Homo sapiens: one gene and its partners. The protein of the gene in region 1 interacts with the protein of each later gene in a pairwise test. Each region holds a gene or a part of one and is shown in the gene's direction. Other genes may lie near its edges.

The links.
Region 2: the proteins of ARRB1 (region 1) and NEK6 interact in a two-hybrid assay, tested with the Homo sapiens proteins (one large-scale study listed by BioGRID and IntAct).
Region 3: the proteins of ARRB1 (region 1) and BRAF interact in a protein complementation assay, tested with the Homo sapiens proteins (one large-scale study listed by IntAct).
Region 4: the proteins of ARRB1 (region 1) and SASH1 interact in a two-hybrid assay, tested with the Homo sapiens proteins (one large-scale study listed by BioGRID).
Region 5: the proteins of ARRB1 (region 1) and STK38 interact in binary tests that used the Homo sapiens proteins (3 or more experiments, as listed by UniProt).
Region 6: the proteins of ARRB1 (region 1) and ZRANB2 interact in binary tests that used the Homo sapiens proteins (3 or more experiments, as listed by UniProt).
Region 7: the proteins of ARRB1 (region 1) and GPR50 come close enough for resonance energy transfer, tested with the Homo sapiens proteins (one study listed by BioGRID).

What each region holds. Positions count from the first base shown.
Region 1 is NC_000011.10:75,345,162-75,348,661, reverse strand, and holds part of ARRB1 (beta-arrestin-1), read left to right. Parts: intron 1-3,500. UniProt on the Homo sapiens protein: Functions in regulating agonist-mediated G-protein coupled receptor (GPCR) signaling by mediating both receptor desensitization and resensitization processes.
Region 2 is NC_000009.12:124,309,949-124,313,448, forward strand, and holds part of NEK6 (serine/threonine-protein kinase Nek6), read left to right. Parts: intron 1-2,560; coding exon 2,561-2,701; intron 2,702-3,500. UniProt on the Homo sapiens protein: Protein kinase which plays an important role in mitotic cell cycle progression. Required for chromosome segregation at metaphase-anaphase transition, robust mitotic spindle formation and cytokinesis.
Region 3 is NC_000007.14:140,918,430-140,921,929, reverse strand, and holds part of BRAF (serine/threonine-protein kinase B-raf), read left to right. Parts: intron 1-3,500. UniProt on the Homo sapiens protein: Protein kinase involved in the transduction of mitogenic signals from the cell membrane to the nucleus. Phosphorylates MAP2K1, and thereby activates the MAP kinase signal transduction pathway. Phosphorylates PFKFB2.
Region 4 is NC_000006.12:148,541,838-148,545,337, forward strand, and holds part of SASH1 (SAM and SH3 domain-containing protein 1), read left to right. Parts: intron 1-1,842; coding exon 1,843-2,981; intron 2,982-3,500. UniProt on the Homo sapiens protein: Is a positive regulator of NF-kappa-B signaling downstream of TLR4 activation. It acts as a scaffold molecule to assemble a molecular complex that includes TRAF6, MAP3K7, CHUK and IKBKB, thereby facilitating NF-kappa-B signaling activation.
Region 5 is NC_000006.12:36,523,480-36,526,979, reverse strand, and holds part of STK38 (serine/threonine-protein kinase 38), read left to right. Parts: intron 1-1,337; coding exon 1,338-1,389; intron 1,390-2,516; coding exon 2,517-2,639; intron 2,640-3,500. UniProt on the Homo sapiens protein: Serine/threonine-protein kinase that acts as a negative regulator of MAP3K1/2 signaling. Converts MAP3K2 from its phosphorylated form to its non-phosphorylated form and inhibits autophosphorylation of MAP3K2.
Region 6 is NC_000001.11:71,071,036-71,074,535, reverse strand, and holds part of ZRANB2 (zinc finger Ran-binding domain-containing protein 2), read left to right. Parts: intron 1-1,987; coding exon 1,988-2,064; intron 2,065-2,280; coding exon 2,281-2,415; intron 2,416-3,500. UniProt on the Homo sapiens protein: Splice factor required for alternative splicing of TRA2B/SFRS10 transcripts. Binds to ssRNA containing the consensus sequence 5'-AGGUAA-3'. May interfere with constitutive 5'-splice site selection.
Region 7 is NC_000023.11:151,175,162-151,179,383, forward strand, and holds the start of GPR50 (melatonin-related receptor), read left to right. Parts: upstream 1-1,422; 5' UTR 1,423-1,560; coding exon 1,561-1,747; intron 1,748-2,215; exon of another isoform or gene 2,216-2,675; intron 2,676-4,222. UniProt on the Homo sapiens protein: G protein-coupled receptor that plays a role in numerous physiological processes including regulation of energy metabolism, neurite outgrowth or cell migration.

The sequences.
Region 1 (3,500 bases):
CATGCCACTGCACTCCAGCCTGGATGAGAGAGTGAGACCCTGTCTGAAAAAATAAAAAAAAAAAATACCTGGACAGGACTAATCACAGGGCAGGAGTATGATGGTTGCTGCAAGGTGCTCTGGGAACAATCATATATTCATTCAACAAATGTTGATGAGTGCCTTCTGAGTGCCCAGGGCCTGGGGATTCAGCAAGGAAGGAGTCTACTCTGTCCTCCAGGGATTTAGAGCAGAGCAGGTGGTCATAACGCAGGATGACATGTGTTGTGGGAGGCTTAAGGAGAAGTCCCCAACCCAGGCCCAGGCAGGGAGCATGGTACAGGAAGCTCTCCTGGAAAGGAGGTGGCGTTGGAACTACTGAGCTTCATCTGGAAGGATGAATAGGCCAAGGGGGCGGGATTGGGAATGATATTTCTGGCCAAGGGTGCAGAATGTGCAGTGGCTTGGAGGCAGGAAGCAAGGCGTGCAGCCTGGGGCCTGGGCTGGGGATGATAGTGAGCCTTAAGAGGTAAACACAGACCGGTCACCAGCAGTCTGGGAATGTCAGGCTAAGGAGAGAGCATTTTCTCCTGAAGTGGATGGTGATTCAGAGAAGAGTGTGAGGCAGCAGAGGGCTGGAAGCAGATGTTTTCATTTCAGAGAGATGTCTTTGGCAGCGCCAAGTAGGGTGGATGGGAAGAGCAGGCCTAGAAGCAGGAAGACCAGTGAGGAGGCTGGGGAGAAACCTGAGAACTAAGGCTGTGAGCTCTGAACTTAGGCTGCAGAGAGGATAGAGTTGAGAAATATGAATGTGAATAGGAGGTGGAGTCCATCAACCTTGCTGGTCGATTGGACCTTTGCCAGGTATCTGGTGTGTGTTAGAATTACACGCATAATCTCAATGAATTCAACTGTAATCTAGTAGTGTAGTCATTGTTGTCCCCATTTTGCAGATGAGGAAACAGACTAGAAGAGATTAAGTATTTGTTCACTGCCATTCAGCCAGCAAGCATAAGAACCCAGGCCTATTGACCCACAAAGCCCTCTCTGCTACTCGACGCTTTTGCCCAAGAGAGGGGGCCTTGTCTGGCTCACAGTTGGCCTCCCCAGCAGCTCCCAGCCTCAAGTTGTGCGTCCTTTCTGGGCCTTGCCGTTTCCACTTACTCAACAGACAACATGAAGGATCAGATTTAGACAACAGGAGGGACTTCCTGAGAGGCAGTGGTAGGGAATGGAATTTCCTTTCCTGCAGATGAACTCCTCTTTTTTCAGAGAAAGGAGGGTGATGAGGACATGTAATCACCAGCTCTCTGTGAACTTTGGCTGTCATTTCTCTTGGTGGTTAAGCCCTGTGTGACCCATCTTGGCTGGAACATGGGGAAGTCCTGTGGCTTTGGCCAGGGCTGCTCATGGGGCCGCTGGGAGTGGTAGCATCAAGTCTGGCCCACTGTCTCTGATCCCTGATTCCAGGCCGGCCTCTGGGCTTCAGACTTCTCCACTGCTCTCTTCCTTCCAAGTTTGGGCCTCCTTGCCTGAGGCTGACGCCTCCCGTTGGCATGGGTCCAGAGGTCCTGAGTTGTGGGCTTGCCACTTCCAGGGCTTCTGACACTTTGGGTTGGTGGCAGTAGAACAGCAGGCTGGGAGTCAGCACACCCCAAGTGAGGTCCTGGCCTCTACACAGCCATGCTCCGCTACTGCCAGAGTGCCCGCGCCTACCATCTGGCTGAGGCCTGCATGGCTGGGAGCAGCTTGGTGAGGGAGCCAGGGCAGTCTGTTATAGGCTGGACGTAGTGGGGCTTCTGCATAGAAGGGTCTGGATCCTGGGGTAAGAATCAAGGTGCGAGGCAGGGCTTTGGAAATGTGGATGAATGACATCGCATAGGGAGGAGGTATAGAGTATGAAGAGAGGATGATTAGGGACAGCCAGGGCCTTGGAGAGCACCAGTGCCTGGGTATGGAGAGAAGAGGGAGGAAACTGACGGAAGGCCATATTCTTGGAGCCAAAGAAGCAGGGACAGACCCACAGAGGATGAGCTGGAGCGAGACCCCTCAGATTCAGCCAGAAGGCATTAGCTGGTGGCATGGGTTTTGGTGGAGTGGTGAGGGCAAAACTAGGCTACAGCGGGCAGAGAGGAGTGGGAGGGGACCCTGCTTTTCTACATGCCTGGAGCAAGGCTTGAGCCTCTTGGAGGAAGGGCGTGAGGCCCTGGGCTGGGAGCAAGCAGTATGGCGGCAGGCAGTGAAGACTGGGTATGGGAACCTAGGGGTTTTATCTCATCCACCCCCTCCCTCTGCCTTATGTCCAGAGGCAGAAGACCACTGCCCTGTGCTCTCCTTTCAGGCTCAGGCTGAGGGGTTGTGAAGTGTGAGCTGGTCCTGGGGAAGACATGTAATGTGCTGGCTCCAGAAAGGAGGGGCTTCTGACTCAGGTGGGGGACTTGGAGGAAGGCTTCTTTGAAGAGGTGACCCCGGAGCTGGGTGCTGGAGTATGAGAAAGACTTAGGCAGGAGTAAGGTGTTCTAGACAGAAGAAAGAGCCTAGGCCAAGGTGCAGATACTGGCTGCAGGTGTGGGAGTGTGAGGGGTGAGGCTGTGGAGGAAGGGACAGCCTTGGCCAGCAGGTCTTGGATGCTGGAGGGGGTGGTTTCAAGGTACTTTCTTATTCATTCATACCTCAGGCTGAGTGAGCTCCCCATTTGGTAAGCAGCTTGTGGTTCAGGGCTATTTCTGTTTCTCAGTTGATGCTTCCTTACCCACGCTGGGTCTGCTTCCCCAGGAGATGCCTGGCAGAGGTTTGCTGAACTGGACTGAAAATTTTTTTCCCTTCTTGCCTCTGCTATCGGTCCAGGGACTCCCTAAGTGCTGAAATTAGGCCTTTCCCATTAGTGAATCGTAAGACTGAAAGCGATATTTCCCACATTAGGCAAGTTCTCAAAAGAGAGGGGTGGGGTCCTGACTCCTCCATCAGACTGGGAAGTCCTGAGGGACAGGGTTATACCACTCCTATTAGCATGGGGCGCCTGAGCGGGAGGCCTGGGGCTCCCTCATCTGATTGGCTTTTGCAGGTGGGAGCCATGTCTCCCTCCTCAGACTGGAGGCTTCTGAAGGAAGGATGTCTCCTCCATCACACCGGGGGCTCCTGAGGTTGGGGCCTTGTCTCCCATGTGAGCCCTGGGATTAGAACAGGTATCGTCTCAGATGGTCCCTGGGCACCCTGTGTTCTTCCCTCCTATGTGGACAGGATGGTTCCTGTCCCAGGGGTGGCTTGAGTCCTAGTAGGGGGTTGGAGAACAGAGGGGGTTGGCAGGACAGGGTGGCTGCTTTTGAGAGGGTAACAAAGGACTCTGTTGTCCCAGCCCCCTCCCGCCTTCCCTAAGGGGCCCTGGCAGGGTCATCTCTCGGGAGACGCGCCTCCTCCTTCCTGGGACTGGCCCCATCTTTAGCCCCACTTCAGAAGAACTGCTTGTTCCTTCCCAGGAGACCTGGTGCCAGATGAAGCCCCTGGGAGTTGGACAAGACAGG
Region 2 (3,500 bases), on another chromosome or scaffold:
TTTTGAAGAGGCCGGTGGCGGGTCCTGGGGCGGGGCCTGGGGCAGGGCTCAGGTGACTGAAAGAATGGAGGCTGGAGCAGGAAGTGGCAGGCCTGGCCGGTCAGGGGGTCTTGAGTGAAAAGCCGAGGAGGGATCTGAGCTGAGAGCCCACCCGATACGGAGCAAGAGCTTGGGCACCACAGTCCCCAGTCCTGGGGTCACACCCCAGCTCTGCTGTTCTTTGCTGCCTGATCAGAACAGGTCACTGCTACCCCTCCAAGCCTCAGATTCCTGAAATGGGGACAGCAGTGAGGCCCACTCACAGGGTTGTTCTGAGGACCCAAAGAGTGGGCGCGTGGGCGGTGTCTGCACAGAGCCCAGCATGCAGTAGACACTCAGGATGCCTGCTCTTCTTAGGTGGGTGCTCTGTGTACAGGTGTATTTACCCGACAGACATTGGCACATGGTGGATAAAATCATCATCTTCCTCCTCCAGCAGCCCTCCAGATCGGGTCCTCTGGCAGGACCCACCATGAGAGGTAATTAGGCCTCGAGGCTTCAAAGTCAAGGTTGGCCCAGCCCTCACCTTGCTGTGTGCTGTGAGGCCTGGACTCCCATCACTCACTCCCGCAGGAGGGTGTTCTGTAGAGTTCCCTCAGCCAAATCTGGAAGAGACATTTTCTTTTTTTTGAGATGGAGTCTCACCGTCACCCAGGCTGGAGTGCAGTAGCACGATCTAGGCCAACTGCAACCTCCGCCTCCCAGGTTCAAGCAATTCTCCTGCCTCGGCCTCCCAAATGGCTGGGATTTACAGGCACCCACCACCACACCCGGCTAATTTTTGTGTTTTTACAAAAATTTTTTGGCCAGGCTGGTCTCAAACTCCTGACCTTAAGTGATCGCCCGCCTCGGCCTCCCACAGTGCTGGGATTACAGGCGTGAGCCACTGCGCCTGGCCTAGAAGAGACATTTTCACTTTACTTTTTTCCCTGCTTTTCCAGTGAGTTTCTATTATTCATTAAGTCATGATTCAGGGTCCCAGAGTAGGGATCACCACATAACCAGGTTCCCCTCAGGCACTCTGGGAGAAGGACAGAGGAGAAGTTGATGGACCCAGCTTAGACCTGCCCAGGAGACGTGCCCCTGCTCCGCAGGCATCTCAGGCTGAGACGCAGCTGGTCCGGCCAGCAGTTCCTGGTGTTTCCAGGTGGGGAAGCAGCTGTCAGAAGGGCCAGTCCTGTAGTTCTCGGTTTGGTCTTGATGCCTTCCGCCAGGGTGCTGGCTCCTAAAGACGCCTCGGTACGGTGCCCGGCTCAGTGTGACCCTCACCAAAGACCCACTTCATGCTAGAAAGTTGAACTGCTTGTTCTGGCTTCACTAGGGGCGGTGGCATGGAGCTGGGTGATGTGGGCATGGCTGGCCCCTCTGGGCCTCAGTTTCCTCATCAGGCAAATGGAGACACAGCCGGGCCCATCTCACCATAGGGCAGGCCAGAGATGTGGCATCCTCTCCCCTTGTCTGTCTCCTCCTTCCCTGGCCCACTGTTGGCGCCCCCTCCTGCCTTTTCCTGAGAGCTCACTGCACAGGTGTCCTGGGGTCCTCCTGGCCACTGTGGTCTCACCTGGAGGCTCCATCCCTGGGCAGGTCCTAGCGCAGGATCATGTGTTCCAATGCTGGCCCCTGCAGAGTCTTTGTGGAGCTCTGGTTTCTTCACGACACCCTAAAAAAGGCAGTTTATCTAAAGGATGGGCTCAGGGTGTAAGGCTGCACATTTTTTTGAGAGGGGGACAGAGTCTCCATCACCCAGGCTGGAGTGCAGTGGCATGATCTCTGCTCACTGCAACCTCTGCCTCCTGGGTTCAAGCGATTCTCATGCCTCAGCCTCCTGAGTAGCTGGAATTATAGGCATGGGCCACCACACCCAGCTAATTTTTATATTTTTAGTGGAGACAGGGTTTCGCCATGTTGGCCAGGCTGGTCTCGAACTCCTGACCTCTCGAACTCCCGCCTCAGCTCCCAAAATGCTGGGATTACAGGCGTGAGCCACCACACCTGGCCAAGGCTATGAATATTAACCTTGGTTTTCTTGTCTGAGATGGGGAACGGCTGCCCCAGGAAGGGAACTTGCCATTTCTTATGATGACCTGGGGCATTTTGCATGGTGGCCACGGGCTGGGGATACATGAGCTGCACCCGGCTTACCGGACCCCAGTTTGGGCATCAAGGATTCAGGAGAGGATGAGACGGGCAACGCCCGTGGTCCCACGGAGCTAGCCCCCAGGGATGGGACTCAGAGACAGCAAACAAACAAGCAGTCAGACAATGAAGGTGGTGATGAGGGCAGTGGGGAGCATGAACAGCCTCAGTTTTTCACCTGCACTGGGGGTCCTTGAGGGGACCCAGGGGACCCTGTGCAGAAAGCCCCCTGGGGGGGTGCCTGGGAGGCTCCCAGAGCAGGGTTGGCAGCAGAGTCCCTCCTTCACCTTAGAGGGTGCTGTTGGGGTGCTGGGCCTCTAGGGGTCGTCCCCAGGCCTCTGCTGCAGCCTGGCTGCTCACGGAGGCCCTCTGTCCCCCGTTCCAGAGGCATCCCAACACGCTGTCTTTTCGCTGCTCGCTGGCGGACTTCCAGATCGAAAAGAAGATAGGCCGAGGACAGTTCAGCGAGGTGTACAAGGCCACCTGCCTGCTGGACAGGAAGACAGTGGCTCTGAAGAAGGTGCAGGTGAGCTGACAACCCGTGGGGTCAAACCTGCATCTCGGGAGGTGGTCTCTGCATCTGGACGGGGTGCCCGGGCCAGTCCCTTCTCTCCCCTCTTCTGTGAACGAGGGAAACAGCACTCAACTCACTGGGTTACAGAGAGAACCAGGTGGACTCCTATTGATGAAAGTTCACTGTGAACTGCAAAGGAAAAGAAAAACGAGCATGCATTGAGCGCCTGCTGTGTACTGGGTCATGCAAGGAGCACATGGAGCCTCTCAACAGTCCCGTGGGTGGGGATTGTCATTTCATCTCTCAGATGAGGAAAATCTCATAACCGCCAGGGCCCCAGCATGAGTCTTGGGGGAGCTGAGGTTCATACCATGTCCACCCATCCTTGCGCCTGCGGTTGCTCCACAGTTCTGGGCTTCCTGCCTTCTGCGTCCCTCCTAAATGGAGGAAGTAGGTCAAGCGGCAAAGTCAGGACAGGAGCCATGTCCATGAGAGCCGCTGGGCCCGTCTGAACACAGCTTTGCCGGAGGAAATGGCTTTAAATCCTCCAGCAAAGCTTCCCAAGCCCCTTGATTTGCTTACTTGTCCTTAAAGAACAAGATTGAGAGCCTGGGCAGAGGAGGGCCGGGAGAGAGAATGGCGTTGGGGAAATGGGGAGAGAACACCCGCAGCTTCAGGGCGCTGGAGGAGTAGCAGGGTCCTCTCTGTCCAAAAAAGGACCAGTTTCTCTCTTGATCTTGTTTTTTTTTTGAGATAGAGTCTCAGTCTATCACCCAGGCTGTAGTGCAGTGGCGTGATCAGCTCACTGCAA
Region 3 (3,500 bases), on another chromosome or scaffold:
CATTCACTTAAAGGGATCTTTTACTGCAAATTACATGGAAAGAATGAAAAGGTTTGCTTGTGTGTAATGACACATTTTATTCTGAAGATTTATTTTACCTAACAGTAAAATGTAGGTTTTTTTTTTTTAAATAAAAGTTTCCCAGAGGGAAATTTCATCTAAAAAAAAAGTCTGATTTCAAAGGGAAAGCAAGTCATTATCAAAAATTAGAAAACTATAAGTACAAAAAGTAAAAAATCATCAGTAATTTTGCCACTAAGATATTATTACTATAGACATTTTGGTGTATTCCATCTGTTCTTTTTTAATGCTTTTATAACACTATGTAGTTTTGTATTTTAAAAAACTTAAAGCAAAAATTTCTACGTATTATTAGACATACTGTGATTTATTTAACTAATCATTTTTTTGGGGTGTTAGGTTGTTTTTAATTTTTTACTGCCATCAAACATCTTGAACATAGGATGTAGATTTTAGTCTTTAAAATATGTTGGGGAATGAACAAATTTCACATCCTGTATTTGTAGTATTAATACTTTGTAGGTGCTCAAAATAGAATATTCTGGTAAATGATTAGTGCTTATTAAATATTTATCAAATGAATGTACTTGTACTTTTGGCATTAAACATTAACATCTGACCATTTATATTTACCTGATTTTTTTTCTATGGCCATATGGTATGAAATAGTGTATGGTATAAATTAACCATATGGTATAATAAATACATTTTTTTAAGTGTGATACCAGAGTGATATTTATTAACTGTTCTTCCTGTGCTGTTTCTGTAGAAGGGAGCTTCTCACAATTGCATTAGAATTACAATTTTATTATGTTCTGTTTTCAAGATCTCTGATCGTCAGTCTTAAACTGTTTAATTATAATAATGTATTGACTAGGGAATATTCTGGGATATAATCTCCTTTATAATGAGGTCCACTGTATTAAAATACATCTTTGCAAGCCACACCAGGTTGGATTGCATCATAACCCTGAAAAGTGGTATTCTCATTAATGCAGGTGCTTGTGCAGTTTTGGCTATTGCTGTTAATACTTATACAGATATATTCACAGGTGCCCTTGTGGCAAAAATCATAAAATAGTTGTTTGTCTTTGGTATTTCTAGTGTTCACTTTCTATATTCTTTTCTCTCTCCTTATTTACTGAACTCCCTTCTTTAGGCATCCACTCACTCCTTTTTCTGTTTAGAATATTATCTGTCAGTCATTTTATATGTTGGCCATTAAAGGAATAAACTGTCAGTAAACAGCTAAGAAAGGAATGTTGGACTGGGTGCTTGAATCCTTGAATGTAGTAAATGTGAGTGCAAACTTGATTTAATTGTACATGTATTTGGATAATAGGCCAGAAAAATTACATTAGGGTAACAGGCTAGAACAGTCTGACTTTTCTTGTTTTTCTATCCCTTGCTTTCTTGATTAGAATGAATAGGAGGTGGGTCTGGATATAGCAGCTGGAAACCTGTGTTCCATGAGTGATGGGGAAGAGAGGGAGGGAATAGGTTCCTCTGATTTTTGGCATTTTCTAAGACCTGATGCCCACCTTGTCAGAGAATGCGATGACTACTTTTGTGTTCTTCCTTTTCCCTTTTTCTCCCAATTATAAAATTGTTTTCTCTTTCAGAACTGCAGAAGTGCATTTTGTTTCTTTGACACTTTGATGTTGTTAATTTAGCTGAATACCTAGTGAACATTTTGTGTCATAATCCCCTTGTTTTATGAAATCCAGTATGGTCTAGTCACCTTACATTTCTGCCTCATATTGTCCTTAAGCCTTTTTTTGTCAGTAGCTCTTACTAGATTTTGTCTTCATCAGAAGTTAAAGTGTTTTAAGTCCTTTACTCATTCTGTTTCTCTATTTTAACTTACATTGGTTATTCTGTAAAGTCAGATGTGGCAGTAGGGCTGGTCGTGGTGGCTCACACCTGTAGTCCCAGCTACTTGGGAAGCTGAGATGGGAGCATCACTTGAGCCCTGAAGTTCGAGGCTGCAGTGAGCCATGATCGCACCACTGCACTCTAGCCTGGCAACAGAGTGAGACCCTGCCTCAAAACAAACAAACAAACAAACAAAAAAAAAACAAAAAAACTTGCTTGTAGAACTTCTGAATTCAAAATAGGTGGGCCTATTTGGGAGCTTTTCTGTTTTTAAGGTGTCAAGTACTGCTTTTTAAAATCATAAGGTTATGGATAACTTCATGTTAGTGTAAGAAGAAAAATATAGCCTCATTTGTTCCATTTCTTTCTTAAATTTTTTGTTTTCATTGCCATGTTTTTATTTTTCGATTTCAATTTTTCCAGCCTAAATCACTAACATACTTAATTAGCATGGTAATCAGAAGATACTCTTTAATACAGTCTCCACCCTAACATTAAGCAATTATTTTTCCCCCCTACCCTCTGAGATTATTTTTGTGTCCATGTTTTCTCTTGGGCTTAAAAAAAAAAACTATTATTCTAATTCCTTCCTGTATCAAGACTATGCATATAGAGGGAACTCAATGCCCAGTAACTTCTTTTTCTGGGCCCTGGTGATGTAGAATATAAAAATTGCTTTGAACTCAATTAACTTTATATCTTCTGGAAGCTCTGTAACATCGGATAAAGCGTCGTTTTCATTCTTGTAATGTAGCTGCAGTTCCTGACAGCACGTTTGGGACAAATGTACTGTGGGACGGTGGTTTTCAAAGTACGCCAGAGCTCTAGGAGAATTTTTCGAAAACATTCTATCATTGTAAATAATAATTTTTTTTTTTTTTTTTTTTGAGACGGAGTCTCGCTCTGTCTCGCAGACTGGAGTGCAGTGGCGCGATCTCAGCTCACTGCAAGCTCTGCCTCCCGGGTTCACGCCTTTCTGCCTTTCTCCTGCCTCAGCCTCCCCAGTAGCTGGGACTACAGGCGCCTGCCACCACGCCCAGCTAATTTTTTGTATTTTTAGTAGAGACGGGGTTTCACCGTGTTGGCCAGGATGGTCTCAATCTCCTGACCTCGTGATCTGCCCGCCTCAGCCTCCCAAAGTGCTGGGATTACAGGCGTGAGCCACCACACCTGGCCAGAATAAAAATTCCAAATTGCACTAATGCATATGTGAAACTGTTTTTGTCTGTTTTGTAGTTTTAAAATCTTCATCTATAATAGTACCTGGCACATAGGTACTAAAATATTTGGTGAAAGAATTAGTGAATAAAACCTTACTGGATATGAGGTGATCTGATTTTCTGTAACATTCTATTCTTTTTTTCTGCCGGTCACAAAATCACCTTATGAAATTGACAGCCAAATTGGCTGCAACAGGCAGTTTGAAAAACACTGTTTTGGGGTTTCAAGGACCTTCTTCAGAGGTTACCCCAGGGCTCTGTTTAGTGCCTCTATACCAGGGGCCCCCAACCCCTGGGCCACAGCCTCGTATCTACCAGTCCGTGACCTGTTAGGAACCTGACTACACCGCAGGAGGTGAGTGGCAGGCAAGTGAGCATTACCGC
Region 4 (3,500 bases), on another chromosome or scaffold:
AAGGTTTTCTATCAACTTGGGAAGATAGTAGTTCTCCCCAAACTATATATAATATTCAGATAGCCTCGGTCAAGACAGGATGCAAAACTCACCTAGTATCCCAGTACATCCTCAGTTTCAGTAAACATCAGAATCCTTATGTAGCTCATGTAGGTTCTGAAGAATTTTTTTTTCTCTTAATAACCTTTTCATATCCAAAACTTTTCAGGAAATTAATTCCCCCAACTGTTGGTGATTGGTAAGGATCTCACAGATATCACTGGCAGAATTTTTCATGCCCAAATGAATTCAGGTGTACCTGCTGAAGAACTAGATTGCTAGCGAACCATACTTTGAACTCAAAGTAAGTTCAGGGATCTTTCTAATGTAATGCAGAATGCAAAAATGGAACTTATATATATAGTTTTATATTGGGAGTTAAGGGAAAAGAAAGTCATATTTCTAAATTTATGCTAAAGAGGTTCTAATAATTTTCTATTTCAACCCACTTTTAAAATCTGATGCAATTTTTTTTTTCTGAAGAGGTATTTCTTCATTTATCTGTGATGATTTTTCTTTTCTTTTTATGAGGCGGAGTCTCGCTCTGTCGCCCAGGCTGGAGTGCAGTGGCGCGATCTTGGCTCACTGCAAGGTCCACCTCCCGGGTTCATGCCATTCTCCCGCCTCAGCCTCCCGAGTAGCTGGGACTACAGGCGCCTGCCACCATGCCCGGCTAATTTTTTATATTTTTTATGAGAGACGGGGTTTCACCGTGTTAGCCAGGATGGTCTCGATCTCCTGACCTCGTGATCCACCTGCCTTGGCCTCCTTAAGTTGTGATGATTTTTCTAATAATGAAAAGTAGGACCATGGTCAATATCTTCAGTAGTAGCACTAGGCTGATGATCTTTATGTAACAACAATAATATCCTACAAATGCATAGCATGTTGGTGTTTATCAGTGTGGAACATACAGGTGGACAGGGTCAAAGCACACAACAAACATGTTATCAACCAAAAATGTAACAAGGGACAGTGTGTGTGTGTGTGTGTGTGTGTGTGTGCGCGCGCACATGTAAGTACTGATGAGAACAAAGCATTCAGCACATTGTCTGGCCCATGAATTGTAAGTTCTTGGCAAAGCTTATCCAACAGCAGCAGTTTAGTATCAACTACCAGTCGTCAGATAAGTAGATTATGTCTGGTTGATAGTTCAGTTATCAGTCTGGCAGTTGTAACTAGGACTGTTGCTTTGCTGGGACCTAAAACTTTATCAGTATTTTGTAGATTTTCTTTGGCAAAGTACTCACAAAAGTTTACCTGTCTGTGTCCAGGTTGGTTGATTGCTTCTAGGATAAACTTACTAGAAGGAGGGGCTTCAGGGAAGGTGGGATTTGAGTATTCACAGATCACTCTGTAGGGGATACCATTTATAGAACCTGTTGTGAAATTCAGTCCAGCTCTCCTTTTCCATCATGACCTTGAGAAATTGTACTCACCCAACAAATCTCATCAATATGCGGTATGATGATCAGCCTCTTTCCACGTCGATTGCAGTGGGGCACAGACTTAAGCCAAGATTTATTTTACTGCTTGACACAGCGTATTTCTTTCCCATGTAACCCAATTAATTTCAGTCTTCATGATTCCTTTAATAAGACTAAGAATTCTTTCTAAAAATAAAAATGGAACCATAATAACCCTCTATCACCCGATGTCATAAATGGTGATTTTATGTTTTTAGTGTAATTGAACAATAGGATGTGGGTGTTGGAGATTTCAATTATGTTAGCACAACTTTATGCATCCGTTTGATTGATTTGCTTTTAAAATGTGATTGTAAAATATTCCCTTGTCTCACAGGCAAGACTCGGAAAGCTAGCCTCCTATCTGCCAAGTCATCCACCGAGCCCAGCTTGAAGTCTTTTAGCAGAAACCAGTTGGGCAATTACCCAACATTGCCTTTAATGAAATCAGGGGATGCACTGAAGCAGGGACAGGAGGAGGGCAGGCTGGGTGGTGGCCTTGCCCCAGACACGTCCAAGAGCTGTGACCCACCTGGTGTGACTGGTTTGAATAAAAACCGAAGAAGCCTCCCAGTTTCCATCTGCCGGAGCTGTGAGACCCTGGAGGGCCCCCAGACTGTGGACACTTGGCCCCGATCCCATTCCCTGGATGACCTTCAAGTGGAGCCTGGTGCTGAGCAAGACGTGCCTACCGAGGTGACAGAACCGCCCCCTCAGATTGTACCTGAAGTGCCACAGAAGACGACCGCCTCTTCCACGAAGGCCCAGCCCCTGGAGCAAGACTCTGCTGTCGACAATGCATTGCTACTGACCCAAAGCAAGAGATTTTCTGAACCTCAGAAATTGACAACTAAGAAACTGGAGGGCTCAATCGCAGCCTCTGGTCGCGGCCTGTCACCCCCTCAGTGTTTGCCCAGAAACTATGATGCTCAGCCTCCTGGAGCTAAACACGGTTTAGCAAGGACGCCTCTGGAGGGCCACAGAAAAGGACACGAGTTTGAAGGAACACACCATCCCCTGGGCACCAAAGAAGGGGTAGATGCTGAGCAGAGAATGCAGCCCAAAATTCCATCACAGCCTCCACCTGTTCCTGCCAAAAAGAGCAGAGAACGCCTTGCTAACGGACTCCACCCTGTTCCCATGGGCCCCAGTGGGGCCCTCCCCAGTCCCGATGCGCCATGCCTGCCAGTGAAAAGGGGCAGCCCCGCCAGCCCCACCAGCCCTAGCGACTGTCCCCCAGCACTGGCTCCCAGGCCTCTCTCAGGGCAGGCGCCTGGCAGCCCACCAAGCACAAGGCCGCCCCCCTGGCTCTCAGAGCTCCCCGAGAACACAAGCCTCCAGGAGCACGGTGTGAAGCTGGGCCCGGCTTTGACCAGGAAGGTCTCCTGTGCCCGGGGAGTGGATCTAGAAACGCTCACTGAAAACAAGCTGCACGCTGAAGGCATCGATCTCACGGAGGAGCCGTATTCTGATAAGGTATCAAAGGTCCTGGGCCCACCACGTTCACAGGCCTTTGTTTGTAGAAGTCAGGCAGCCAGGTGAGATGAACCCACATCTGAAGCCAGCCCGGTAGCCCGCCCAGTGGACAGGAGACACCTGAATCCACGTGTCCACACCTTACTTGACATGCATGTGTTCAGATATTGACACCACCCCATTTCATCTCTCCGTAGGTAAACCGAGGTTAAAAATAACCTGCATGAAGACCTCTTAGAGGGATTACTAGGAGCAAATAAAATAAATGTGGACAAAAGAACCCTATTCAGATGTGATAATTGTATTATACAGTTATCTGTATGGGTAATGGGAAAAAGATAATATAAAATCCCCCATTGTACCAAAAACATTTAGCTGTATAATGAAAAATTATTTCTCATTCAAAAAAAATGAGATCTACCAATACCAAGTGACTCCAAAGACAAAGCAATGCTAACAGATACAGCAGTACTTTACTCCTGGAAATACAGGTCCTATTAGGATGCATTCCTGAGAGTC
Region 5 (3,500 bases), on another chromosome or scaffold:
ATTTATGATCCACCCTCCTCAGCCTCCCAAAGTGCTGGGATTACAGGCGTGAGCCACCACGCCCGGCCTTTTTGTTTTTTTTGAGACAGGGTCTCACTCTGTCACCCAGGCTGGAGTGCAGTGAGTGGTGTGATCTCTGCTCACTGCAGCCTCCACCTCCTGGGTTCAAGTGATTCTCCTGTCTCAGCTTCCCAAGTAGCTGGGATTACAGGGTATGCCACCATGCCTGGCTAATTTTTGCATTTTTAGTACAGACCAGGTTTCACCATGTTGGCCAGTCTGGTCTCGAACTCCTGACATCAAGTGATCCACCCGCCTCGGCCTCCCAAAGTGTTGGGGTTACAGGCGTGAGCCACTGCACCTGGCCTAATTTTTATATTTTTAGTAGAGATGGGGTTTCACCATGTTGGCCAGGCTGGTCTTGGACTCCTGACCTCAAGTGACCCATCTGCCTCACCTCCCAAAGTGCTGGGATCACAGGCGTGAGCTACCACACCCAGCCTGATATATGGAGTTTTGATAGTGGTGCCAGTCACCTTTTTGATCACTTTTTCCCCTTAAATTTCCAAATTCTGCTTTTAACTTTGTTGTTTGTTACCCTTTCCTCATGGCAGGGAAGAGGAGGAAGATGCAGAAATAAAGGAAGTAGACTTCAGTCAGAGAGAGGGAAAGAAACAGCATGATATAAGAGTTTATCAAATACCAGCTGTTTTGTGGTTTGGTAAGGAGGAAATAACTGGAAAAAAAAAAAAAAAAAAACACCCAAAACCAAGAGAGGACATTTTTTTGAAACAAGAGTCTTTGTTGCATTAACATCTTAGACAGTCTTTTAAAAAATGTAGACCTAAGGGCGGGGCATGGTGGCTCACACCTGTAATCGCAACACTTTGGAAGGTCAGGCTGGAGTTTGAGACCAGCCTGGGCAATATAATGAGACCTCATTTCTACAAAAAATTTAAAAATTAGCCAGGTATGGTGGCACGCGCCTGTAGTCCTAGCTACTTGGGAGGCTGAGGTGGGATTGCTTGAGCCTGTGAGGTGGAGATTTCAGTGAGCTGAGATTGCGCCACTGCATTCTAGCCTGGGTGACAGAACAAAACTCTGTCTCCTCTCCTCGCAACCTGCCCCCCTCCCCCCGCCAAAAAAAAGTAGGCCTAACAAAGGATGGAAATCTTTTTACTTGTCTTAGTAACTTAATTTTTTTTGTTTTAATGAGACATTTTGAGATTTACCTGTTTGTGTCATTTTTAAAAATCTACTACAGTATTAAGTTACAGAATTTTCAGAAAGTTATCATTCAGATGTGATTTCATGTCTTTTGTTTTTGTTTGTTTTAGACAAAAGAAGTTAGAAAAGGTGATGGAAGAAGAAGGCCTAAAAGATGAGGAGGTAATTAATATTGGCAATGTTTTCCTTAAAACCCAGCGTGGCAGGTTGTATCTTGTCCAGTGAGTTGTTAGCCTTGGTACACATGAGAAGGGTTTTGGCTCAATAACAGAGGAACTTGAGGGGTAGTGTGCTTCCGGATTTGGGTGTTAATTCAGAGGGACAGATTAATTATTAAGTACCTAGGAGAGGAAGGCTTCTCTAGATGCAGTTATAGTAAACTAGATTTAGAATTCCAAGAGAAAGCAGGGATGAAATCAAATTAAATTTTAAAAGAGCAAGTTGTAGCATTTTTATAGAATTCACTGAAAAGTCTCCGTAGGAGTAGGGCAAATTTTTGAAATATTTATTTATTTTACTTTTTCTGGGATACATACGTGTGCTGAACATGCAGGTTTATTACATAGGTATATATGTGCCATAGTGGTTTGCTGCACCTATCAACCTGTCATCTAGGTTTTAAGCTCCGCATGCATGAGGTATTTGTCCTAATGCTCTCCCTCCCTTTCCCCCCATGCCCCGACAGGCCCCGGTGTGTCATGTTCCTGAAATCTTTATTAAGGCAAAATATCCATCTCAAATCAGCCCTTCCACCCAGTGCCCACAGATACAGTAGGAGAAAATATAGTTAACAAGGGACTGTGCAAGGAACTGAAATGGTAGTGGAAATGCCTTCAAAAATAGGACTGGCTTGCAGAACCCAGGACGGTGGTGAAAAATACCCAATACTTGTAGAAATAACAGAAAGTTAGAGTATACAGTGTTTAAGCCAGAGGGAAAGATAAGAACACATTTTTAATTTATATTAAACAGGATAAAGGAAAATATTGTTGATTATTTATCCCTCCCTTCACCAAAAATGTTAGGATAGTGGATTGCTGAAGTAGGTTAGTCAGAGTTCCCAGAGGAGGCACCCATCTGTTCAGTGTGGCTTGGATGTTGTGTCTAAATGCCAGGAAAGGGAGAAGTGACCTCTTAAGGATCCTTCTGGGGTGATTTCATATGTGAAAAGATTATCCTTAGTCCACTTGGACCTGTTTTCTAGCTGGGTAAGTCACAAACATGACTTGTTACAGAGTTTCAGAATTTCAGTTCCTTCCCGTCTCCTCCCTTTTTTATTTAAATATTAGAAACGACTCCGGAGATCAGCACATGCTCGGAAGGAAACAGAGTTTCTTCGTTTGAAGAGAACAAGACTTGGATTGGAAGATTTTGAGTCCTTAAAAGTAATAGGCAGAGGAGCATTTGGTGAGGTAAAAATCACAGCTACTTGTCAAGTAGAAAAATATTGCAAAACTTCAAAGCTTCTAACATACCATTAAGTCATGATTGTTGATATAACAAATATATGGAATTAAATGAGTCAGGCATGCCAGCCCCACATCCTAATTGCTTTGTCTGTCTGCTTTCTCTTTTTCTTCTCTCCGCAGTCCCAGATCTCTGTTCTCTGTTTTGCCAGAGATGGTGTTGGTGTTTAAATATTGACTTAGGGGGAGAGTTGAAAGGTAGAAGGAAATCAACATTTATTATTTACAGGCTGCTTTTTTCCCATAATCAGGACAGTAACCCATTTTATAGATGGTGAAATTAAGACTCTAAAGGTATATATAATGTCTCTTGTTATCACACAGCCATTGAGTACTGGGACCAAAAGTTGGGCTCTACTTCCTGAACTCAAAGAGCTTGCTTTTCCCAGTACTGCACTGCCTCTCGAGAAGGAAACTAATAGTGTATCTCCACCCTTTATTTCTCCCCACCAGATTGATACAGCTCTAAAAAGATGACCCTAGGAGGGAGGATTTACAGAAAGGAGTTATATAGGTAGTGGTGGAGAGTTGAAAGCATTTGCGACTTTGTCCCCGCAATTCTTGGAAATGATCCTGCTTGGGCACAAGAGCAATCTGTTGGGGAGAGCTTGAAAGAGCCCATGCAAGGTCATTCCTGTTAATGAAAAATGCCCAAACTGGATGACCTACTGACGCAATAATTGCAAGTATAAAAGGAGCAGTATATTATTAAAACCTGGTACCCCGGGGCCAGGCACGGTGGCTCACTCCTGTAATCTCAGCACTTTGGGAGGCCAAGGCGGGCGGATCACAAGGTCAGGAGTTCGA
Region 6 (3,500 bases), on another chromosome or scaffold:
GTTTTCCTGTTAGTGCCTTAGTTCTTCCTTTGAAGTACATGTTATATTCATCCCCCTTTCCCGCTTTTTTTCCATTGTCACAATCTTGATCCAAACATTCATTTTAAACCTGTGTTTGATTCTTTCTTGGCCCTTGCTCAGCTTTTTACATTATACTGTGAGACAAATTTGAAAATATATTCATTGTAAGACTTACTAAAATCTACGGAAATTCTTGGTTGCTTTCTAAAGCTTTCCATAGAAATTCAAATTCATTAGATGATTCCAGAATTGTGTTTTCTGTATTCATTCCTTGAAGACATTTATAGGCCACTGTGCAAGGTGCTGGGGATACCTAGGTGAGCAAAAGAGTCTTACAGCACCAAAGATTAATGAAGTCCTCTTTAGGAAAGCTATGCTTAAGCTAAGAAGTGAAAGATGAGTTACCTGAGTAATGGATTAAACACTCTTCTTTCTGTTTGTGGAGAAGTAATTAGGAGAGGTGGCGGCAAGAGTGGAAATAAAACCAATTTATACAGCATTATCTGAAGTGCTTGAAATTAGTAGAATGACGGAAACATACATATCATTCCATTGATTCCACTATCTCAGGTATTCAGTGAAAATGGTATGCTTCAGTTTTTTCACGATAGGGAGCTAGTGTATTTTCCATTTATACAGAGTTAATGAGCTAGATTTATATTGTATGGGTTCATAGAACATACCAATGTCTTTGTTGTCAGCAGACTATTTTGCTGCCTCTTAAAATAATTTTATTTACATACTTTTGAAAAATTAACTACTAGAGTTATAGTTCACTTTCTAATTTTACTATATTTTTGAGCTTTCCATATTTGTCATATTACTTTTCAGTTTTTTCCTATGTAAATTATTTCCAATTTAGATCCCACGTATGTTTAAAAATATTTTTATTAACTTCCAAGTATTTTGAAGTTTTCACTAGTACAAAGTATAATGAAGAAAAGATGCTATATTAGTGTGGGTTTTTTTCAGAAAGTGAAATTTTAAAAATATTTTTTTAAATATGATAGGCAAATTTTAAGTTACAAGTCCTAATTTTTATAAAATATTTTTATTATAAATCTATTTAATATTTTGCTGATGAATGAAGTCCCTAAGTCTGGAAATCACCGGCCTTATTGTACTGATACTGCTCTGGAGTATGTGACCAGTTAGATTGTATTACTCTTGATCAACACATACCTCTTTAATTTTCAATGGGAGACTTTTTCAAAATATGTCAACTCACTTTTCCTAAAACTAGCTCATTTTCTTTAATTCCAGTCTCTCCTTTAAGCTTATGTCAGAGACCTGCCAATTGAATTGTATACATTGGTTGTGACATGAGAGAATAGTGGTTTGCTAATCTCAACTACTTTTTAATAGAATCATTTAATTTCAAAATTTACTGGCTACTTCAGAGAACCTGTGTGACTTTTACCTATGTGTTAAAACCAATTAAACCAGGGCCAAAGGATGGCCTTTATTGTGTTATTGTGTTTGTCTGTGTAATTAGGAATTTTCCAAGCTCTAATAAGGCCTGCTACATTTTAAAGTAGCAAAATTTCAGAATATCAGAAGATTTCAGACTATTTGCAGTTGGTAAACAGTGGAATTTAATGCTTGGTTGTTACTGAGCCCACCCTTCCCAGAAGAATTACGATTAACTGTAGAGGAAAGTCCTTTAAAACTTGGTTATAGCAGAAGTTTGAGATGTTTTCCACCAATACTTTCTATGAATTAAATAAGTCATGTAGGGCAATTTGGAATTGAAAAGAGCTAGAAGTACAGCCATATGACGTTACAACTAAGTTCTCTGTATTTTCTGTGGTGATTTCTAATATGCTTTCTAAAGACTAGTAATTTATTAGATGGGTAGGCAGCCATTGTTGATTAGATGTTTTTTGTTGTCTGGAGATTTGGGCATGATGTGTTTATTATTTAAATCAATTGTCATAGGGTAACAATTTGTGCCCTCTTTTTTAAGGATATGGTGGTGGTTTTAATGAAAGAGAAAATGTTGAATATATAGAAAGAGAAGAATCTGATGGTGAATATGATGAGGTAAGCTATATTTTGGTGTTCAGGTTGAATATAAATTAGAAAAACAGAAAAAATTCTTAAATGCAAAGGAAAACAAACTTTTTTTTAAGTGCAATTTGAGTCTTCAGCAACTGATCATTTTCAGGAAATCATAAATATCTAAAATAATTTTTTAGAAAATGTATTAAGTTTAATGCATTATCAGCTGACAAGCATTTTGAAATTGTTTTTCTCTAGTTTGGACGTAAAAAGAAAAAATACAGAGGGAAAGCAGTTGGTCCTGCATCTATATTAAAGGAAGTTGAAGATAAAGAATCAGAGGGAGAAGAAGAGGATGAGGATGAAGATCTTTCTAAATATAAGTTAGATGAGGTGAACAATTTTCTTGTCCTATTTCCCTTTTGTCTTATTGGAGTTATACCATAACATGAATGCTTTTGACAGCCTCAGACACTTGGTGAAAATATATTCTGTGTTTTCATTTGTTCTCACAAAGGTTTTGGATTTCCACTCTGCCAAGTACTATTTGTACTTGGAACACTACTGTTCTGGAGATACAGTGGTGACCGAAACAGAACCAGTTTTCTCTTACACAGTTCTAGAGGAGGAAATATATAAATAGGTAATTTTGATAGCAGTAACGTTATGAAGACACATGATGTGATAACAGTTTAAAAGCAACTTTGGTTTTGCCGATGGATAATGTCTAAGGAGGTGAAGTTTGAGCTGAAACTTGAATGATAGGAAGGAGCCAGCAATAAGAGCCGAGGTGAGAGCACATTTAGGCAGAGAACAGCAAATACGGGTTCCCTAAATAGGAGATAAGCCAGCAGCCTTCAAAAATACCATACATAGGCCAGTATAGTTAGAGCAGAGGGGAGAATGAGATGAGGGGGACAGCACACATTTCAGGTCTGGTGATACTTGTTCTGTCAGGCCAGAGTGTAAGTTTTATGCCATGTTAAGGGTACCTTAGAGCCTGATCATAAGAGGTCTTGGAATGCAACTAAAGAAATAATAAGCCAGTTTTGAAGTTTTTAAGAAAAAAGTGAGATGTGTTTATCTGTCCTGTGTTTCAGAGTGATGACTGTCAGTATATTGAGATACTAGAGAGGCAGAATGGATCTTCAGATTTGAGGAGACCAGCTAAGAGGTTACTATAATATGCTAGAGAATAAGGAACAGAGTGTCTAAGACTAAAAATGGTGATTTCAAGGACTTTTAAGGAGGTGGACTTGAAAATTCTTGGGTGATGCATAAGTGTGACAGAAAAAGTGTGTATGGCCTCCAGGTTTATGTCTGTGCAATACCTGAGACAAAGTTGTCAAGTCTCTATTTGAGATGAGTTTAGTAGGTGAATTTTAGAATTCAGAATTAATTTGCTGAGATACCTGTGATATATGCATATGGAGGTGCTCAGTACACCTAACTGTTTTATCTTTCCTGGTAGGTAACAC
Region 7 (4,222 bases), on another chromosome or scaffold:
GACTAGTCTGGAACAAGTTTCAAGGTGTTTACTGAGATTTTGAAAGGCTTCTCGACAGGAGCCGTAACTTTTAGTAGCCGGCAGAAATCCATTCCCGTGACCAAGGTTATTGAGGGAACGAGTGTCCGAATCACGCCCCTTTAGTTTTGCCCGAATATTCGAATTTTCCGTGGTCCCCGCGGAGCGAGATCCTGGGCGCACCGCAGGGGAACTGTGACGCACGGGGACAGAGATCCGCGGTGTGGAGGGCGAGGGGGGAGGCCTGAGAGGGATGGGGTCGAAACGAGAACCCCAGAAGGGCATGGGAAAGGAGAAAGACCGAGAGGAATCCTGACTGAGGCAGGGATCGCCGGTCAGCCAGAGGCTTCTTGGTTTAGCCGCGTGACACCTCCGCACCTTTCCCGCGGCTGCGGCGCAGCTCCTTCAGCCTTCCTGACTGCCCCGTGCCGCTCAGTAGAGAATGCCGAGCATCCCGAGAGGGAGAGGCGTCAGAGCCTCTCGTCCTGAGTTTCCTTGAGAAGCGGGGACCCAAGAGAAGAGCTTTATTGCCTGTTTTACTTTTTCCCAAAGCGTCCCTTGGCTTCCGCCGCCTGGCTGCCGGCAGCTGGAAAGGAGACGAGCTCCCGCTCCCGTTCGCCCCCAAACTGAGGACCGAGTGGCCACCAATGCCTTCCCTAGGTCCCAGGGTGCAGACCCGCTCCCCACTTCCAGAGTCGGGCGCAGGGTACATCTCTTTATGGAGAGTGCAAGACCTGGACCGGACTGAGCGGCTACTCGCAGCTGCCGCTAAGGGAGCCAAGAGGCTCCTGGCGAGAAAGGGAGCGGGGTTAAGTTCCCTAGGGATTAGGGACCCAGATTGGGGGTGGGAGCTCCCAGCAGTAGTCCCCTGTTCCCCGCGGGACACAGAAGGCTCTAGACAGGCAAGGGCATGGGGCGTGGGATGGACCTCACAAGGATACTTGCAGAGGCAAGCATCTAGCGTTCAAGGGGCCACCGGCTATCCCCTATACCCTGCTGGGGGCTGTGGACTGGCTTGGTCTAGCACTGGATCCTATGAAAGACTCTGTGCTCCGGCTCTGCAATCTACATCTCTTTGCCAGGTGTTTGCACTGGAGGAGAGAGGGAGAAGAACTTGCTAGAAACGAATGCACAGGGGCTGGTGGAGGGGGTGTGGGGTGGACTCCGAGCTAGTCATGATGCTTGCAAGGTACCTGGGAGATTGAGAGGCAGGGCAGGCTGGCTAGAGAGGAAGTACATACAAGGCAGTCGGAAGCAAGATGACACCTCAATGTGGATTTGTCCAATAAGAGGGGGTAGCCAAGGGGGGGGTATTCAGGGAGGTCTGATTGGTCGGGGGGAGGGATTTGGGGTGGGGCTAGCCGCCTCTTGAGGCTTTAAAAGCTCATCGGAGAGGGGCGGGATGCTGTCATTTGCTCTCTGACTCTCAGAGAGGGAGGCACGCTTTCCTGGAGCTCCTGGTGACAGAACAGGTGTTTGCTGTCTGGACCTGGCTGCTGATCCTGAGCCTGCTGGGAGATCTTAACGATCCCCAGGAGCAACATGGGGCCCACCCTAGCGGTTCCCACCCCCTATGGCTGTATTGGCTGTAAGCTACCCCAGCCAGAATACCCACCGGCTCTAATCATCTTTATGTTCTGCGCGATGGTTATCACCATCGTTGTAGACCTAATCGGCAACTCCATGGTCATTTTGGCTGTGACGAAGAACAAGAAGCTCCGGAATTCTGGTAAGCCACCCCTTCTTCTCCCTACCCAGTGTGCAGAGACTTGCAACCCCTAGGGCGTTAGTTTTTGAGCTCCCCGAATAGAGAATCTATGGACAGTGCCCTCATATTGAACATCCCTGCTCCCAAATTCCCCGCAAGCCTGGGGGTGGTAGTATTCTGTCCCGGCCCTCTAAACGTGGAGGTTCTCAAGGCCGAGAGAGCACAGAGAATTAGCTTTGGGCATCCAAGTACAAAGCGTTCCCGTGGTGCGCGGCAGCCCGAGGATCCCTGTCCCGTCGGGGCCTGATGCGGAGGGAGCCGGCACCCGAGCGGGAGAGTCAGGCGATTCGCCCGGGGACAGCAAGCCGAGCCGGACGCCGCAAGGGCGGCCGCGCTGAGGCAGCGCGGACCGAACTGACGCGGAGGGAGCAGCGGGGCTGCGACCTGCTCTGTGAAAGTTAAGTTCGCGGCGGCCGCGGCGGCCCTTACCAGAGCGCAACGCAGTGGCCTCTCCCTAGCCGGGCCAAGAGCCCGCTCGCCGCGGCCCTGGGGCTCCAGGACGGCTCCCGGGCAGATCCCGGGCGGCGGAGCACAGACCCCCGCGCCCGAGAATCGAGCAGGGAGGTCTGAGCCCGCCGGAGCCGAGCTCCGTCCGCCCGTCCCAGGGCGAACGGCAGAGAGAGGCAAGCGGCGGGTCGGGCACAGCAGGCGGTGGCAGCGACGGCGGCGGCAGCGGAGATCCCAAGGTCCGTAAGCGGGGAACTGGGGGGTCGCAGGGCGGGCCGGCCAAGAGGCTTGGGAGCTGGGCGTTGCTGGGGGTGGAGGGATAGAAGGCAGCAAAACCGAGTAGGGATTGGCGGGAGGGCGACGGGAGAGCTCAGAGGCGGCGATGGGGGACTCAGAGAGGCTGCAAAGGGCTGGGGTCTGGGAGCCGCAGGCGGGACTTCCCCCGCTGCTAGCCACTGCCGAGCGGGAGGAGGCCGGGGGCCGGGGGCCGGCGGCGAGCAGGGCAGGAGGGAAGCGTGGGAGGATGCCGGGCGCTGCGACCTGTGCTGGGGGTGGGGGCGGCAGACACTGCAGAGCAGCTAGTCCGGCTTACAGGTTGGGCGGGAGAGGGCTCTGGAAGGGAGGGGAAGGGGCAAAGGCGCCCAAACTCCGAGTTCAGGCCGGGGGAGGGAGGGGCGGCGCCTGGAATTTCCACCGCCAGATTCTCGATCGGCTGGGGCTAGGAGTGGGGACCGAAGGGGGTCTGAGAGGGTGGGGAGACCAGCTGGATTCTCCCGGGCAGGGCGTGGGGGAGAGGTGGCGGCCGGGGTCTGGGGGATTACTTTGCTTGGGCAAGGAGTCACGAACACTGAACAAGTTTAAAAACGCACTGACTGGCACACAGTCATTAAAAGTTTTCTTACAAAGTCTGGTGGGTGTCTCCGATTTCTCCTTCGTCTCCTGGAATCGTGGGGCCATACACTAGGTCTTCACCTTCACCCCCGCGGTGCGGTCCCGAGGTGCAAACCCACGGAATCCTGGGGGCGACCTGCGAAGCCCATTTTATTCCCTTTAGATTTCTTTTCTTTCTTTTTCTCCTTCTCCTTCCTTCCTTCTATAATTCAAATAAAGGCTTTTATGGTTGTTGTGGTTTTGTTTTTAAGGCTTTGCCCCTTCTCTTTTCGGCTGTATTTCCCTGAATTCATTACTCTGCCGGAAAACCATAGAAAGAACCTCTTCGGTAGAAAGTGCTGAGGCCGAGTGCTGACAGCGCTGGAGGAAGGAGGAAGAAGGAGCCATACCTTTGCCCTTTTCAAAAGCGCTCATTTTCTCCTAGTCCAAGATGAAGTGCAATATTTTGCCAAACCAATGCTAATTAGCAACGAGGTGTCTCCAAAGAAAGAGGGCTCTGCGCCTGCACCTGGCCTCTTCCTTCTCTTTTTTGTGAAAGGTTTTACAAAAAAGTTCCCACCTCAGCCCTACAAGACCGGAGTGGGGGTGACCCTTCTTCTCTATCCTGTTTAACCTGAAGGCTCCAGTAAAGTTCAGTGCCCGGCGCTGGGAGCTCTGTGCAGGGCGCTGAATGTGCCAGTGCGCGGCTCTGCGCGTGGACGTGGACGCGGCATGTAACTGAAACAGGCACTTCTGCTAATCCTTGCAGGATTTTTTCTCCTCCCCCCCACCCCCGCCCACCTCGCGCCACCCTTCCCGCCCGCCCTCTCACTACTTCTTTGGTCTCAGACTAAATTTTACAGGGCTTCCCTGCTTCCCCTCAGTTTTCACTCTTAGGTTACCTCGGAACGGTAAGTATTTGACTTGGCAAGGTTTTAGGTTACTGCTTGATCCCATCGGAAAAGACTGTTTAAGAAGATGGCCTCTAATGCCTTTTCTCAGAATCTTCTCTCTAGTAATGTGTTTATTATAAATGCAATGCTAGGCTATAGGAGGGAGATGGCTAATTTATCTTTTTCTAATTATTTAATTATTTTTAATTTTTTTAGTTTGAGGCTT